2 separate regions of the Homo sapiens genome follow, and region 2 is linked to region 1. Evidence: fine-mapped expression QTL. A gene starts in region 1. The other region holds a variant in brackets. All regions are shown on one strand. Distances are between the middles of the regions. Region 1 holds the start of TRMT61B (tRNA methyltransferase 61B). Region 2 overlaps SPDYA (speedy/RINGO cell cycle regulator family member A).

The links. PIP is the estimated chance that this variant, and not a neighbour inherited with it, causes the effect.
Region 2: its variant is the best candidate, but not a certain one, in a credible set for the expression of TRMT61B in left ventricle (GTEx, PIP 0.59).

Annotation. Positions count from the first base shown.
Region 1 is chr2:28,866,128-28,875,393 of GRCh38, reverse strand. TRMT61B (tRNA methyltransferase 61B) reads left to right here and starts at 5,085. Exons shown (of 7, transcript NM_017910.4): 1 at 5,085-5,815. The coding sequence starts at 5,117. RefSeq lists enhancers at 4,743-4,892, 5,123-5,292, 4,907-5,431, 6,061-6,575, 6,576-7,091.
Region 2 is chr2:28,825,350-28,834,615 of GRCh38, reverse strand. It overlaps SPDYA (speedy/RINGO cell cycle regulator family member A), which reads right to left. Exons shown (of 8, transcript NM_182756.4): 6 at 5,297-5,468. Among named protein-coding and RNA genes, the nearest start is that of SPDYA, 19 kb to the right of the region's middle. The variant C/G (reference allele first, on the strand shown) is at 3,778.

The DNA.
Region 1 (9,266 bases):
AAATCCTAGAGGAGAAGTTCTACAGAATCCAGATTCAAGTTTAGCAGCAACTGGGGATAAAGTGAAAAAGCAGGAGAAAAGCAGGTATAGTCTTAGACATAGATATTTTCTATTTTGCTAAAATACAGTAAGAAAAAAATCTGTGAACTTCAACAGTTCTAATAAAAACTAAATGAATGTACAGACACAGAACAAAATACATGATAACTATTAAATATAATTGCACCATGTTTATACATTGAGTTATTTAGTATAGTAGTCTAGGTATCAGTGCTGTTAATTTTCTCATTTTCTACTTTCTTCATTCATTTATTCAACAAATGTTTATTGAGAGATGTTTTGTGCCAGGCACTGGAATTATAATGATGAACAAGACATAGTCTTCTCCCCAACAATTATATCCTCTATCCTGGGAAATGATAAATAGCAATTTCCATATAGTATGACATGTGCCATGATAGATCTAAAGACAGGACTCTGGCTGGATGTGGTGACTCTTGCCTATAATTCCAGCATTTTGGGAGGCTGAGGAGGGAGGATTGCTTGAGGCTAGGAATTGAGACTGCCCTGGTCAACATAGTAAGACCCTGCATCTACAAAAAATTTTTTTTAAATTATGGCCAACCGCGTGGCTCACACCTGTAATCCCAGCACTTTGGAAGGCCAAGGCAGGTGGATCACTTGAGGTCAGGAGTTTAAGACCAGCCTGCCAACATGGTGAAACCCCGTCTCTACTAAAAATAGAAAAATTAGCCAGGGGTGGTGGCATGAGCTTGTAATCCCAGTTACTCGGGAGGCTGAGGCAGGAGGATCACTTGAACCCGGGAGGCAGACCTTGTAGTGAGTCAAGAGAATGCTACTGCAGTCCAGCCTGGGTGATGGGAGTGAAACCCTGTAAAACAAAACAAAACAAAACAAAACAAAACAAAACAAACAAACAAACAAAACAAAAAAACAAAAAAAAACAAAAAACATTGGCTCACGCATGTATTCCTAGCACTTTGGGAGGCTGAGGCAGGTGGATCACCTGAAGTCAGGAGTTCGAGACCAGCCTGGCCAACATGGTAAAACCCCATCTCTACTAAAAATACAAAAATTTGCTGGGCATGGTGGTGGGTGCCTGTAATCCCAGCTACTTGGGAGGCTGAGGCAGGAGAATCGCTTGAACCCAGAATGGGGAGGTTGCAGTGAGCTGAGATTGCGCCATTGCACTCCAGCCTGGGCGACAAGAGCAAGACTCTGTCTTTAAAAAAAAAAAAAAAATTGCCATGCATTGGTGGCACATGCCTGTAGTCCCAGCTACGCTGGAAGCTGAATCAGGGCAATTGCTTGAGCCCAGGAGTTCGATGCTGCAGTAGGCTATGATGGCACCACTGCACTCCACCCTGGGTGACAGAGCAAGACCCTATTTCTAAAATAAAAACAAAAACAGGCAGGACCCACTGGGAGCAGAAGTGAAAGGCACTACTCTAGGTCTTTTGGGATTGGTACAAAGCCACCATTCCAGTGGTACTGTGAGGTTGATAGCTGGAGGACAAGGGAAAACTACACAAAATAGAGTGAAGAAGCATGTGCAAAGAGCTGGAGGAGATCACCTGTGGAACTAGAACTGGTTGCCTGTTTGGAGATTTTAAAATGCCAGCCATCAGCCATGGTATTTATTGAGAACTATTCAGATTTTAAAGTAAATGCTTAACTAAATGTCACTAGAAAACAGTATTTTTCTTAGCCTTATAATGTAAACATGGGCTGGGCGCGGTAGCTTACGCCTGTAATCCCAGCATTTTGGGAGGCCGAGGTGGGTGGATCACCTGAGGTCAAGAGTTCAAGACCAGCCTGGCCAACATGGTGAAACACAGTCTCTACTAAAAATACAAAAAATTAGCCAGGCGTGGTGGCACAGGCCTGTAATCCTAGCTACTCAGGAGGCTGAGGCAGGAGAATCACCTGAACCCAGGAGGCAGAGGTTGCAGTGAGCTGAGATCGTGCTATTGTACTCCAGACTGGGTGACAAGAGCAAAGTTCCGTCTCAGTAAATAAATTAAGTAAGTAAACATGATAAGTTGACGATGTATCACAAATTCATCATCAAGATAATAGTTTCAGAGTGCAGGCTGACAATTTCATAGGGAAAGCAGAAGTAAAGGATAGCCAGAAATAGAAAGGCCCACATAGTGACTTCTTTTTTAAGAATTTCAATGCTCTGAAAGATCATGAATAAATAATATTATTTTCCAAAATGTACTAATGTATTTCATTAGATGTGTATAAAACAAAATACGTATAACATTGTGGCTGTTATTTAAACAATGGAAAGAAAGTGATGCCATTTTCCATTTACAATTTGTTTTAAAAATCAAAGATATGTAAATTTACTTCCCATATTTTGTTAGTGTATTTTCTTTTTTTCCAATTCCTGCTTATTCTGAAATAACAGCCAAGTATCATTTGATAATACTCAAGAAATAATAAAGTAGGTATGATAACTTTTAAAACCACCATAGGGCTTAGAGTTCAGGAGGTTCCGGCTCAGACCCATGTTTGGCAATGATAATCTCCTTAATTTCAAGAATTTTATAACCAAAAATGAGTTTTTGTCTTAGAAAGCCTATCACAAGAAAAAGTAGTGAGAAAAGCCTACGACTCCAGAAACTATTGGTCATAACTTTTCCTAAAAAGCAAACTACACAAAGTGAGACACGCAGTTGGGGTGTGGAGAGAGCAGTTTCTTTATTCATTTTTAGAATTAGAAGGGAGAAATTTGGCTGGGTGCAGTGGCTCATGGCTGTAATTCCAGCTCTTTGGGAGACTGAGGTGGGTGGATCACCTGAGGTCAAGAGTTCAAACCAGCGTGGCCAACATGGCGAAACCCCGTCTCTACTAAAAATACAAAAATTAGCTGGGTATGGTGGTGCACACCTGTAATCCCAGCTATCTGGGAGGCTGAGGCAGGAGAATTGCTTGAACCTGGGAGGCAGACATTGCAGTGAGCCGAGATCATACAACTGCACTCCAGCCTGGGCGAGAGTGAGACTCTGTCTCACAAAGAAAAAAAAAGGAAAAAAAGAAGGGAGAAATCCTGTTGATGGAGTTTATGGTGGCTGATGTCCTAGAAAGTACTGATTAGAAAGTATTAATTTATGTCTTAGAAAGTAATAACGGCCAGGCGCGGTGGCTCATGCCTGTAATCCCAGCACTTTGGGAGGCCGAGGCGGGTGGATCATGAGGTCAGGAGTTCGAGACCAGCCTGGCCAACATGGTGAAACCGAGTCTCTACTAAAAATACAAAAATTAGCCTGGCATGGTGGCAGGTGCCTGTAACCCCAGCTACTCGGGAGGCTGAGGCAGGAGAATCGCTTGAACCCAGGAGGCAGAGGTTGCAGTGAGCCAAGATCGTGTCATTGCACTCCAGCCTGGGCAACAAGAGCAAGACTCTGTCTCAAATAAAAAAAAAAAAAAAGAATAACAAGATTTATTTCATCAAATTTAAACAGAATTCACATTGACTTCACAGCCCTTTGAATATACTTGGACTTTAAGTTCAACTGTGCTGTTGACCAGTCTTTCCAAACGGTGTTACAGTACAAAGAGCATGGGCTGCTGAACCAGACTGACTAAATAGGAAACTCTGCAATGCCACTTGTCAGCTATGCATCTTGACCAACTTATTATTATTATGTTGCACGTGGGTCTTGAAATCCTGGGCTCAAGCAATCCTCTGGCCTGGGTCTCCCAAAGTGTTGGGGTTACAGGTGTGAGCCACCACTCCTGGTTTCCCCAAATTATTTAATCTCCCTGGGCCAGTTCTTTTACTCATAAAATGGATTTGTTTCTAACACAGAATTGTTGGAAACTTAAATGAGTGTCTAACGTGCCTCGTATTGCCAGACTCTCAATAAACTTTTGCCCAGTCAACTAATATCCAGCAAAGAGGCTAGCGATTTTTCTTTTTTTTTTGAGACAGAGTTTTGCTGTGTCGCGCAGGCTGGAGTGCAGTGGTAGCTCGATCTTGGCCCGCTGCAACCTCCGCCTCCTGGGTTCAAGCTATTCTCATGCCTCAGCCTCCCTTGTAGCTGGTATTACAGGCGTGCACCATCGCGCCCGACTAATTTTTTTCCCCCGAGAGGAGTTTTGCTCAGTCGCCCAGGCTGGAGTGCAGTGCCGAGATCTCAGCTCACTGCAACGTCTGCCTCCCGGGTTCAAGCGCTTCTCCTGCCTCAGCCTCCCGAGTAGCTGGGATTACAGGTGCGTGCCTCCACGCCCAGCTAATTTTTGTATTTTTAGTAGAGACGGGGTTTCACCACATTTGCCAGGCTGGTCCCGAACTCCTGACCTCAAATGAGCCGCTTGCCTCGGTCGGCTTCCCAAAATGCTGGGAGGCTAGTGATATTTAACGCTAAATAACTCTGGCCTCCAAAGATACCTGTTTCCATTTTAAGACACTTCTATTTCGTTTTGGGAGGGTAAACTAGTTATATTTTAATAATGAAAACATGTGTTACATAAGCACATAGTGAGTACTCGAATCAACCTCGGACTCTCCGGGCGTGAGGGGTGGGTGAGGGGACCGGCAGGTGGTCACAGCCCCATCAAAAGGGAGTTGGGGCTGGGGGATGTCGCGGTCAACTGGGAAAGGAGAGCCAATCAGCAAGTGGCGCGTCCCACGCCGTCTGTCAAATGCATCTGGGGGTTAGCTGTACTCATACATCTTGTGGGTGACTAGGTGACTTCCGTGTTCAAGACACAAGCGAGCTAAGCCTGGGATTTCAGTTTGCACAGCGCTTTGTTAAGTTTTGTCTCTCAATCTTGCTGTCCAAGAGCGAACCTGGAGGTCGTCTGTTAGCGGTAAATTCTTTACCCACATTCCGAAAAGGAAAACGGCGGCCGCGCGCGAGGACATATTCCTTGGATGGTCACTCAACCAGGACTCCGCTGCTCCCGCGCCCTAGCTTGACCTAGCGCACCGCCCCCTCCCCGACGCAGGCGCAGTCGCGGAGCTGTAGAGCCCCACGCAGCTGCAGAGCCATCGGGCTGCTGCGCCATGCGCGCGACTGGGAAAGAAGGGGTCGCGCTAGGCTTGCGTCACTCGTCTGCGACGGCGCCTTCGCGAAACACTATGCTAATGGCATGGTGCCGCGGTCCTGTCTTGCTGTGCCTGCGGCAGGGGCTCGGAACCAATTCATTCCTGCACGGCCTGGGGCAGGAGCCCTTCGAGGGAGCTCGGTCACTGTGTTGCAGGTCCTCGCCTAGAGACCTGCGAGATGGAGAAAGAGAGCACGAGGCGGCACAAAGGAAAGCCCCAGGAGCAGAGTCTTGCCCATCTCTCCCTCTGAGCATCTCGGACATTGGGACTGGATGTCTTTCGTCACTGGAAAACCTCAGACTGCCGACGCTGCGGGAAGAGTCATCCCCTCGAGAGCTCGAGGACTCGAGCGGAGACCAGGGCCGGTGCGGTCCCACACACCAGGGATCCGAGGATCCTTCGATGCTCTCGCAGGCCCAGTCCGCTACCGAGGTCGAAGAGCGTCACGTCTCCCCTTCTTGTTCAACTTCCAGAGAGAGACCCTTTCAGGCTGGGGAACTGATTTTAGCTGAGACTGGGGAGGGAGAAACAAAATTTAAGAAATTATTTAGGTTGAACAACTTCGGACTCTTAAATAGTAACTGGGGGGCAGTCCCGTTCGGCAAGATCGTGGGGAAGTTCCCCGGCCAGATACTGAGGAGTTCCTTCGGTAAGCAGTACATGCTGAGGAGGCCAGCCTTGGAAGACTATGTAGTATTGATGAAAAGAGGGACTGCCATAACATTCCCAAAGGTAATGCGATGGAGATAAGGTGTGTATTGGTTTCAGGAGGGGCAAAGACAGATGCAGTACTCAGTCCTGATTAATGTATTCAAAGACATCTCAGAACGTTTGGATTTTTTATTGTACTCAGGCTTTTAAAATAAACCAATGGTTATAACTTTTACATATCATGATGAAAATTAGCATTAGGGAACGGCTAGATTTTAATTTTAACTTAGGAGTCTCGAGTCCCTTATTTGTAAAATGTGGATAATAGCTCAACTTTCTGTTAGGGTGATGTGAACTCACTACGTACATAATAAGTACTAATTTTGTTCCCCATTACTCTTAAGTTTATAACTTCAGGACTCAAGAGAATGTTGAACTCTTAGGGAACAATTTTTTAGTACTACTATGATGATATTTTAATATTCAATAATCATGTTACAAGAGTATATTAACAATAGGTACATTACGGTGCTTTTCCCCTTTTAGGGAAGAAATAGAGTTTTATATTACAATAGCTAACATTCAACACCAAACATAAAATGACTATTCTTTATTAAAAAGTTAACTGCCTAAAGCCTAGTTTCAGTCTTTTTTTTAAGACAAGTTCTCACTCTGTCATCCAGGCTGGAGTGCAGTGTTGCGATCTTGGCTCCCTGCAACCTCTGCCTCCCGGGTTCAAGCGATTCTCCCACCACAGCCTCCTGAGTACCTGGGACTACAGGCATGCACCACCACCCCGGGCTAATTTTTGTAGAGACGGGGTTTCGCCTTATTGCCCAGGCTGGTCTTCAACTCGTGGCCTCAAGTGATCCGCCCACCTCGGCCTCCCAGTGCTGGGATTACAGGCGGGAGCCACCGCGCCCAGCCCTAGTTTGAAGCTTATGCTAATCATCTATTGCTAGCAGATTATTTCAATCCTTAGTCACAGTCCTTGAGTAGAATGTTCCTGTGTAACACAACTCCTCCTCCTTTCTCCAGATCAGGATTCATTCGTTATTTATTCAGCAAATTGACTGCCTTCCATACTCAAGGCACTGTTTAGGGAAGTATAGTGTTGAACTGCAGTCCTCACCCTCAACATAGACCTTACATTCTAGAAGGGGTGACAAAGAACAAACAAGTAAATGAAAGAATAAGGTCATTTCCAGTAGTGTTAAGTGTCATGAAGACAAATATATTAACAATGACATTGTTTTGGGTGACCTGGGGTATGAGCATACTTTATGTCAGGTGAGGAGAGATGGTCTCCAAGGAGGTACACTTGATAGGAAACCTAAATAAGGAAGAGCTTGCCTTGTAAACAGATCTAGGAAGAGAATTGTTCTTGCAAAGGGAGGAATGCTGCAGAGTTTCTGTTGTGGCCTCAATGGGTCAGATGAGGGACCCCGTATGAGGTGTGGTTTGAGTATTTTATTCCATTTGTAGTGAAGGACCATTAGAAGGTTCTTAGTAGGAATCCAGTCTGTATTTTAAACGGTCTACCCAGGGACTAAAAAAACTTTCCTCAGAAACTTAGGCTACTGAGGTATAATAAGCTTTTTTTGTTTAAAGACAAGGTCTTGCTATGTCACCCAGGCTAGAGTGCAGTGGCTCAATCACCTCTTACTGTAGCCTGAACCTCCCAGGCTCCAACAATCCTCGCACCTCAACCTCCTGAGTAGCTGGGACCACAGGTGCATGCCACTATGCCTAGCTAATCAAAAATTTTTTTTGTAGAGTTGGGGTCGCCCTAACTTGCCCAGACTGGTCTCAAACTTCTCTAGGCTCAAGGGATCCTCCCTTGAGGGTGCTGGGATTACAGGTGAGAACGACCGCTCCTGGCCATGGTATCATAAGCTCTTGAAGAAAACTAAAAGACTTTCGTAATTTTATCTTGCTTCCCCGTGTCTCCTTTCTCCCCATTAGACAAAATCAGGAGAGATTAGTTACATTTCATGAAGTTATAAATATGCATATTTAGTATACTTTCTGCCTTTCCATTTGTTACAGATAAAAGTCACATTGTTCCACTCTAAGGAGGAATTTAAGTACTAAATTTGTTAGGTGTTGACTTCTCTTTATAGCTTCCAAGTAATGGCTGGAGATAGTTTTACTTCAACTTCTACAACTTTGAAATGCTTGAGGGAATACCTTCACTGATGTTTAAAAACTGATCTCCCTGTTAGAATTACATAATTCCATCTTAGTATTAAAAATATGACCAGAGGCAGAGTGCAGTGGCTCACACTTGTAATCTCAATATTTTGGGAGGCTGAGGCAGGAGGATCATTTGAGCCCAGAAGTTTGAGACCAGCCGGGGCAACATAGGGAGACCTTGTCTCTACAAAAAATAAAAAATTAGCCAGGTATGCTGGCACACACTTGTGGTCCCAGCTACGCAGGAGGCTGAGATGGGAGGATTGTTTGAGCCCAGGAGTTTGAGGCTGCAGCGAGCCATGATCTTGCCACTGCACTCCAGCCTGGGCAACAGTGTAAGATCCTATCTCAAAAAAAAAGTGAGGGGGCAGGTGCCGTCACTCACACCTGTAATCTCAGTGCTTTGTGAGGCCAAGGCAGGAGGATTGCTGGAGGCTAGGAGTTCAAGACTAACCTGGCCAACATAGCAGGACCCCATCTTTATAAAAAATAAAAAAAAAATTAGTTGGGCATGGTGGTACATGCCTGTGGTCCCAGCTACTTTGGAGGCTGAGGTAGGAGGATTGCTTGAGCCCAGAAGTTCGAGGCTGCCGTGAGCTACTATTGCACTACTACACTCCAGTCTGAGTGACAGAGACCCTGTCACCAAGAAAATTTGTTTACTAAATTTAAAAAAACAGTTTTTATTAATATCATCCGTAATATTTGTGTTAACAAAAACAATTCCAATTATATGTTTGGCAAGTGGGTCCTCCAATCTAGTAATAGCATAGTCTCTTTTTTTTCTTATATAGCAGGGCTCCCCTACCCCCAGGCTGAGGACTGGTACCAGTGTGTGGCCTGTAACAGGGAACCGGGCCACACAGCAGGTTAGCGGTGGGTAGTGAGCATTACTGCCTGAGCTCCATCTCTTGTCAGATCAGCCATGGCATTAGATTCTCATAGGAGTGCAAACTCTTGTGAACTGTGCATGCACCAGATCTAGGTTGCATGCTCCTTATAAGAAACTAACTAATGCCTGATGATCTGAGGTGGAACAATTTCATCCCAAAACCATCCCCCTCTCCCCAGTCTGTGGAAAAACTGTCTTCCACGAAACGGGTCCCTAGTGCCCAAAAGGTTGGGGACCGCTGTTATATAGTATCTTAATTCTAAATTAGAAGTTCATCATTTGGCCAGGCACGTTGGCTCACACCTGTAATCCCAGCACTTTAGGAGGCCGAGGCGGGCAGATCACCTGAAATCAGGAGTTTGAGACCAGCCTGGCCAACATGGTGAAACCCCATCTCTACTAAAAATACAAAAAATTAGCTGGGTGTGGTGGTGGGTGCCTGTA
Region 2 (9,266 bases), 41 kb after region 1:
CAGGCTTCTTTTATGTAGCATAATCTTTTCAAGGTTATCTGCGTTGTAGCTTGAACCAGGTACTTCATTCCTTTTAATTGCCAAGTAATATTTTATTGTAGGGATATACCTTATTTTGTTTATCCATTCTATCAGCTGATGGACATTCAGGTTGTTTGTACTTTGGCTATTATGAATACTGCTATGAACATTCATGTTAAAGTTTTTTGTGTGGACATAGTTTTGTTTTTACCCTTTGGCATATATAGCCAGGACTAGACTTGCTGGATCATATGGTAACTCTATGTTAACCTTGTGAGGAATTGCCAGACTGTTATGCAAAGCAACTTCCCCATTTTACATTTCCATAAGAAGTGTATGAGGGTTCCAGTATCTCCACATCCTCTTCAATACTTTTATTTTTGTTTTGTTTATAGCCATCATAGTGGGTGTGAAGTAATATCTCATCGTGCTTTTGATTTGCAATCCCTGACAGCTAATGATGTTGAACATCTTTTCAAGTGTGTGTGTGTGTGTGTGTGTGTGTGTGTGTGTTTTAGCAATTTGCATACCTTCTTTGGAGAAATGTCTATTTGGATTATTTGCCCATTTTTTAAATTGATTGTCTTTTTATTATTAAGTTGTAAAGCTCTTTATATTTCTAGATACAAGACCCTTATCAAATAGATGACTTGCAAAAAATTTTTTTCATTTTATAGGTCATCTCTTCACTTGGTATCCTTTGAAGGACAAAAGGTTTTAATTTTGATGATGTCTATTTTATATTTTCTTTTGTTACATGTTACTTTTGGTATCATGTCTAAGAAACCTAATTCAAGGTCACGAAGACTTACCCCTATGTTTTCTTCTAAGAGTTTTATGGTTTTAGGTTTTACATTTAGGTCTTTGATCCATTTTGAGTTAATTTTTATATATGGTATAAACCAGAGGTTCGGCTTCATTCTTTTGCTTGTAGATATCCAGTTGTCATAGCACCATTTGTTGAAAAGACTACATTTTCCCCATTGAATTTTCTTGGCACCCTTGTCAAAATTCAATTGAACATAATTGTGACGGTATATTTCTGGACACTTCTATTCCATGGAGGGAGATACTACTCTATATAAGGTGATAAGGAAAGGTCTCTCTGAGGTGACATTTAAGCAGAATCCTGAACGTAGTTAGGAAGTGAAGCATACTGATATTTGGGGAACAACATTCCAGGTTATGGGAATAGTAAGTGCAAAGACCATGAGATGGGAGTGTAACTGGTATCTTTGAGGTAAGGAGGCCGGTGTAGCTTGAGTGGAAGAGCAAAGATATGAGATGAAATCAAAGAGATAAGGGAGGAGGGCTGATAGACCATGTAGGACCATGACAGGGACTTTCTCTTTTACCCTATGTAAGGCTGGAAGACACTGGAGGCTTTTGAGTAGAGAAGTCATGATTTGACTTACCTAAAAAAAAAATTACTCTGGCAGCTGTATGAAGAATAGATTATAGCTGCATATGGTGGCTCACACCTGCAATCCCAGCACTTTGGGAGGCCAAGGTGGGAGGATTGCTTAGGCACAGGATTTTGAGACCGGCCTGGGCAACATAGCGAGACCCCATCTCTACAAAAAATAAATTAGCTGGGCATGGTGGCACATGCCTGTAGTCCCAGCTACTTGGGAGGCTAAGGCAGGAGATCGCTTGAGTCTAGGAGGTTAAGGCTGCAATGAGCCATGATCTCACCACTGCACTACTGCCTGGGTAACAGAGTAAGACCCTGTCTTTAAAAAAAAAAAAAAGGTGGGGGTGGGAGAGACTATTTGGAAACTTATGCCAGTAATCAAGGCAAGAGGTGACAATAAAAGTATAGTATTAGTGGTGGAGGTGGTGAGAAATGGTAGGATGCTGGATATTTTTTCAAGGTACAAATATAAGAAAAAGAAGGGTAAATGGAAATAATTTTTTGGCCTGAGCAACTAAAACAATAGAGTTGCTACTTATGAATATGTGGAAGACTGCAGGAGGAGCAAATCTGGAGGTCTGTGTCAAGGAGTCAGGAGTTCAATTTTAGGCACGTTAAGTTTGAGGTATCAATTAGACAAAAAATACCAACAGGCGATTTCGTATGCAGATCTGGAATTGGAAGAAATTATTAGTTGTTAGTGTTAAAGCCTTGAGAGTGAATGGGGTCACCTAATAAGTTAATACCAATAGAAAGGAGAAGAGATCCTAAGTCTGAGCCCTGGGGCACTCTAATGAAGTTGGTGAGGTGAAAAGGAACTGGCAAAAATGACTGAAAAAAACCTGGTATCCTCAAAACCAAGTGAAGACAGTGTTTCAGGAAGAAATGAGGGATAGTGTCAAATGCTGCTAAATTGAGTAGATTGAGGAATACAAATTAACCTTGGGATTTGGCCATATAGAGATATTTGGTGGCCTGACAAGTTTCTACAGAATGATAGGAAAAATACTTTATATAACAGGTTCAAACAGAATGGAAAGAACAGAAGTAGAGATAGAATACAAGCAATTCTTCAAGGAGTTTGGTTATAAGGGAGGCAAAGCAGAGAAATGTAGTGGTAGCTGGGGGATAAAGTTTTTGTTTTTGTTTTTATTGATGGATATCTTAGAGCAATTCTACATTCTGATGGCAGTGATCCAATAAAATAAAAAATGTGAAATGCTGGAAAGGGGACAATTACTGGAATGTGATGTCCTTGAGAAAGCAAGAAAAGATGAGATCTAGTGCACAAGTAGAGGGAATGGATTTGGATAGGAGCAAAGATCGTTCTTTCACAGTAACAAAGGGAAGGCAGAATATAGGGGTACGCATGTAGGTAGGATAGACGATAAGATGTGAGCACGTGGACAGTCTGTTCTACTGCTTCTCTTTTCTCAGTAAAAGAGAGTAATGCATGATTGTTGTAATTGAAGTGTGAGGACAGAGATGGGAGATATTAGAAGTGTACTAGATTTTTTACTTCATTACATTTACAGTTTATTGTTTAGACAATAGATAAGCAAATAAATAATTACAAATTTTATTCAGTGCTACAGAAGGAAACAAAGTATTGTGATAAGGATAATGGAATTAAATTCATTTAAATAAGGTGACCTTTTTGAAGAGGAAAAACAAGTTCCATTAATTTTTTTAAATGTTGCTAAATTTTAAAATTATGAAAAAGCATTAGGAATAATATAACAAACATCCATATCCCTACTGCCTAGAATTAATAGATGTAATACTGCTATTTTTGCTTCAAGCCTTTTTTATTTTTATTTTTTGGGACAGGGTCTTGCTCTGTTGCTGAGGCTGGAGGGCAGTGGCATAATCATGGCTCACTGCAGCCTGAATCTTCTGGGCTCAGGTGATTCTCACACCACAGCCTCTCAAGTAGCTGGGACTACAGGTGTGCACCACCACGCCTACCTAATTTTTTGTATTTTTTGTGGAGACAGTGTTTTGCCATGTTACCCAGGATGGTCTTGAACTCTTGGACTCAAGTGATCCAGGCCACCTTAGCCTCCAAAAGTGCTGGGATTACAGGTGTGAGCTACCATGCCTGCCTGCCCTTTTTAAATTAAAAGAAATAATATAGTTTCTGGTATGTATTTACTAAGTGCTCACTAAATCAATGTATATTAATGAATAAGTTAATTCTATCAAATCTTAAGATTTGCAAGTATATCAACATTTATCAAATTTTTCTTAACTAATACTAGAGCTTACAGTGACCACTGCTTTCCATTTAATTTTCTACTCTAGAATTTTTCTGTGGTTTGAAATAGTGACTTTATTAAAAA[C/G]CAGAACATTTGGTAAAATAACTGATTATTAAATTTTTAGTGTCTTGCTGATTTATCCTAAAAGATTTGGCATTAAGGAAACAATATATTCTTTGTGAAAAGAGTTATGATTTTAAAGAATATTTAAATTGTATACCATTTAATATATGTGTTAAATAGTGTTTCAATTTTGGGAACCTGAAATTTCACATACTTTATTGAGCAGAAATTATTATTCAACTCCAGTGTTATTGTAATCCTAAATAAGATATTTTGGTTTGTTCATATCACCCTTTTTCAATATATTGATGATCCTTTAGACAGAAGAAATACACTAAAATAAAAGTACTTACTATAAGCCGGGCACGGTGGCTCACGCCTGTACTCCCAGCACTTTGGGAGGCCGAGGCGGGCGGATCACAAGGTCAGGAGATTGACACTATCCTGGCTAACACGGCGAAACCCCGTCTCTACTAAAAATACAAAACATTAGCCAGGCATGGTGGCGGGCGCCTGTAGTCCCAGCTAATTGGGAGGCTGAGGCAAGAGAATGGCGTGGACCCGGGAGGCGGAGCTTGTAGTGAGCAGAGATCGCACCACTGCACTCCAGCCTGGGTGACAGAGCAAGACTCTGTCTCAAAAAAAAAAAAAAAAAAAAAGTACTTACTATAGAAGTAGGCTGCTCTGAAAAATAGAAATGACAATTTGTTTGTTTGTTTTTGAGATGGAGTTTCGCTCTGTTGCCCAGGCTGGAGTACAGTGGCACCATCTCAGCTCACCGCAACCTCTGCCTCCTGGGTTTAAGTGATTCTCCTGCCTCAGCCTCCCAAGTAGCTGGGATTACAGGCACCAGCCACCACATTTGGTTAATTTTTGTATTTTTCTTTTTCTTTTCTTTTCTTTTTTTTTTTTTTTTGAGATGGAGTCTCGCTCTGTCGCCCAGGCTGGAGTGCAGTGGCGCGATCTCTGCTCACTGCAAGCTCCGCCTCCTGGGTTCACACCATTCTCCTGCCTCAGCCTCCCAAGTAGCTGGGACTACAGGCGCCTGCCACCACGCCCGGCTAATTTTTTTTGTATTTTTAGTAGAGACGGGTTTCACCATGTTGGCCAGGATGGTCTTGATCTCCTGACCTCGTGATCTGCCCGCCTCGGCCTCCCAAAGTGCTGGCATTACAGGCGTGAGCCACCGCACCCAGCCTAATTTTTGTATTTTCAGTAGAAATGGGGTTTCACCATGTTGGCCAGGCTGGTCTCAAACTCCTGACCTCAGGAGATCCACCCGCCTCAGCCTCTCAAAGTGCTGGGATTACAGGCGTGAGCAGGGCTTGCCCGGTTGACAGTTTTTAGTTATGGTGATAATAAGACAGCAACATTGTAATACACAAGTTGTATTCATGGTAATGATCAATGGTCTACTCCACATATTAGAAAAAAAAAAAAAACCCAGAATACCAAAACATTAGAAGCACATTAAAAAACAAGGATAATAAGATAAACAGAAAACAAAGATTACATATATAAAGCATTTTAAAATTCTTACCTCCTCACAACATCGCCTGCTTACAATAGCCCTATAGTCAATTCTATCCCAGAGCTGGTCCCTTAACTTTAAGAAATTAGGGAACAATTTTCTCCAGTTTTTCCCTAAAGCCCATGGAAAAATTTCGTACTTGGTTTCTTCTTCATCTTCTTCAACTGTATTAGCCAGATACCTAACAAAGAAGATCACAACCCAAAAAAGAAATGGGTAAAGGACAGAAACAGGTAGTTCACATACACCAAGACATAAAAGTGGTTTATAAACACATGAAAGGTGTTCAACGTTAATTAAAGAAATGCAGTTCAAAAATAGAGATACATGTAGTTAATTTTACCTTGTTGGGTTCTAGGTATTTCTTATTCCTACAAATCTTGAGCTTTGTTCTGGGATGCAGTTAGTTACTTTGAAATAGTCTGATTCTTTCAGATGTTGCTTTTATGATTTTTTTAGGTGGATCTGGAACAATGTTCAGTCTGGGGCTAGTTATTCCTCACTACTGAGGCAAGACCTTCCTGAGTACTCTTCTCAATGCTCCATGAATTATGAATCTTTTCAGCCTGGCTGGTGGGAACAGCCACTATTTGCAGCCGTATGTGAATGTTAGGCAGTATTCCTCCTAATCTTTTCTTAACATCTTTCCTCAGATTCAGGTAATTTTCTTATACACATATGAAACTCAGCATTCTGCTGAATGCTTGATGGGGACCAGGCATGCACAGAAGCAGGAAAACATGACTCATCATAAGGCGACTAATCAAAATCAACCCCAAACTGATACCCATGGTTGACATAAAAGATAAGGACACTGGAACAGTTATAACTATTCTGTATGTTCAAAAAGTTAAGTAGACATATTGAAAATGTACTTTTAGAGATGAAAACTACAATGTGTACAATGAAAAATACACTGATTGGGATTAATGGCAGATTAAATATTACAGAGAAAACATCTGTGAATTGAAGACACAATAGAAAGTATTCAAGATGAAATACACAGAGAAAAAAGAAACAAAAATCATAAACACAAGATGAGGGCCGGGCGTGGTGGCTCACTCCTGTAATCTCAGAACTTTGGGAGGCCAAGGTGGGCGGATTGCTTGAGGCCAGGAGTTCAAGATCTGCCTGGCCAACACAGTGAAACCCCATCTCTCCTAAAAATACAAACATTAGCTGGGCGTGGTGGCCTGCGCCTGTAATCCCAGCTACTTGGGAGGCTGAGGCAGGAGAATCGCTTGAACCCGGAAGGCAGAGGTTACAGTGAGCCACCGAGATTGCAACACTGCACTCCAGCCTGGGTGACGGGGAGACTCTGTCTCAAAAAGAAAAAAGAAAAAAGAAAAAAATAAGAAAAAATAAACACAGCATCAGTTTGATGTGGGACTTCAAGAAACAGGCGGAATTGGAGACTCTGAAGGCCAGTATCAATAACAATGAAGGATTCTTTCAATGCACTGTAATCTGAATAGGGCAGACAGAAAATGAGGTGGACAGAAGACATTTGAAGGAGTAACAGCTGAAAGTTTTTGAAATTTAATAAAAACTATAAACCTACAAAGAAGTTCAATGAACCTCAAAGCACATGAAACATGAAGAAAATTAAACCAGTGAACACCACAATCAAATTGCTCAAAACCAGTGATAAAGAGTAAATCTTAAAAGTACTCAGAGAAAAAAAAACCATTAGATAACACAGGCACCATGATTAGGATGGGGTAGATTTCTCATTGGAAATAGTACAAGTCTCACAGATGACTTTCCAAGAAAAACAGGCAACTTACAATAAAAATATTACAAAACACATAAGGGAACAAGGTACCAAGAACAGTAACAGACCCTGAAATCTGAAAGTAATGGAACAGACACAGAAAGTAAGAATAACTATTTCCAGTAAAGATAATACGATACATGGAAAAGTATATTTGAAAAAGAAGAAAATAGAACTTTTATAAATGGAAAATTTTATAATGAAATTAGCATATTAGACATAAGCTGAAGATAAAATTAGTGAACTGAGAGATAAGTCTAAATAAATGATCTAAAATGCAGCCCAAAGAAACACAGATAGAAAATAGCAAAGATTGGCCCGGCTCGGTGGCTCACGCCTGTAATCCCAGCACTTTGGGAGGCTGAGGCGGGTGGATCACGAAGTCAGGAGATTGAGACCATCCTGGCTAACACGGTGAAACCCCGTCTCTACTAAAAAATACAAACAAATTAGCCAGGCGTGGTGGCGGGCGCCAGTAGTCCCAGCTACTCGGGAGGCTGAGGCAGGAGAATGGCGTGAACCCGGAGGCGGAGCTTGCAGTGAGCCGAGCACTCCAGCTTGGGCGACAGAGCGAGACTCCTTCTTAAAAAAAAAAAAAAAAAAAAGAAAGAAAAGAAAAAAGAAAATAGCAAAGATGGGGATGGGTCCAGTGGCTCACACCTGTAATCCCAACACTTTAGAAGGCTGAGGCAGGTGGAGTGCTTGAGCTGAGGAGTTCGAAACCCAGCCTGGGCAACATGGAGAAACCCCATCTCTACAAAAAAATACAAAAATTAGCTGGGTGTTGTGGTGAATGCCTGTGGTCCCAGCTATTCGGGAGATTGAGGTGGGAGGATCCCTTGATCCAGGGAGGTGGAGATCGCAGTGAGCTGAGATCACACCACTGCACTCCAGCCTGGGCAACAGTTAGACTGTCTCAAAAAAAAAAAAAAAAAAAAAAAAAGAGAGAAAGAAAGAAAAAGAAAATTTCAAAGATAAGTGATGGGGAAGACCGAGCGAGGCATAACAAGTTTAATTGGTTTCAAAAGGAGAAAAAGGAGATAGCAGAGGAAGAGAAATATTTGAAGAGACAGTGGATAGAATTTTCTGAGTTGTCTGTTGAAAGGCATCAATCTTCAGGCCAGGCTCAGTGGCTCACGTCTGTAATCCCAGTACTTTGGGAGGCTTAGGCGGGTGGATTACCTGAGGTCAGGAGTTTGAGGCCAGCTTGGCCAATATGGTGAAACCCTGTCTCTACTAAAAATACAAAAGTTAACCAGGCATGGTGGTCTGTGCCTGTAGTCCCAGCTACTTGGGAGATTGAGGTGGAAGGATTGCTTAAACCTGGGTGGCAGAGGTTGCAGTGAGCCAAGATGGTGCCAATGCACTCCAGCCTGGGTGACAGAGCAAGACTCCATCTCAAAAAACAAAAACGAAAAACATCAATCCTTAATCTTCAGAAAGGTTACCAAATCCCAAGTAAGTTATTAAAAAGAAACCAGTGCCAAACACCAAAGAAAAAGAGGTCTTAAAAGCAGCCAGAAGGCCAGGTGTGCAGCTCATGCCTGTAATTCCAGCACTTTGGGAAGGATGGCTTGAAGTCAGGAGTTTGAGACCAGTCTGGGCAACATGGCAAAACTCCATCTTTAAAAAAAAATAAAAAATAAAAAATTAGCCGGGTGTCGTGCTATGTGCCTGTGGTCCCAGCTACTCAGGAGGCTGAGGCAAGAAGATCACTTTAACCCTAGAGGTAGAGGTTGCAGTGAGCCAAGATCATGCTGCTGCACTCCAGCCTGGGTGACAGAGTGAGACCCTGTCTCAAAAAAAAAATTAAGAACCTCCTATATGTTAGTAATTGAAAGATGAAATAAAATGTTATATGTTCCTTGCCCATAAGGAGCCTACAATTAAGTAAAGAAGGCAAGTAAGCATGAAACAAATAATTGTGAAAGGTAATGTGGAAGAATGATAATAGAAGTTCAGAGTCTTATAAGAATACATAGAAAGGAAACATTATAAGACTGTATAGAAAGGAAAAGAACTTGAGCTTTAGAACTATGGCTGAGAAAATATTTAACGAGGAGAACTATTGAGGCCATACAAAAAGTATGATTAGTCTTAAAATGGAAATTATAATTCATGTTATTTTTAATATGGAGCTTACATAATACAACATGCAGTACAACCTTACAGATAATTGTATTGCATAAACTCAATAGTGCTCTA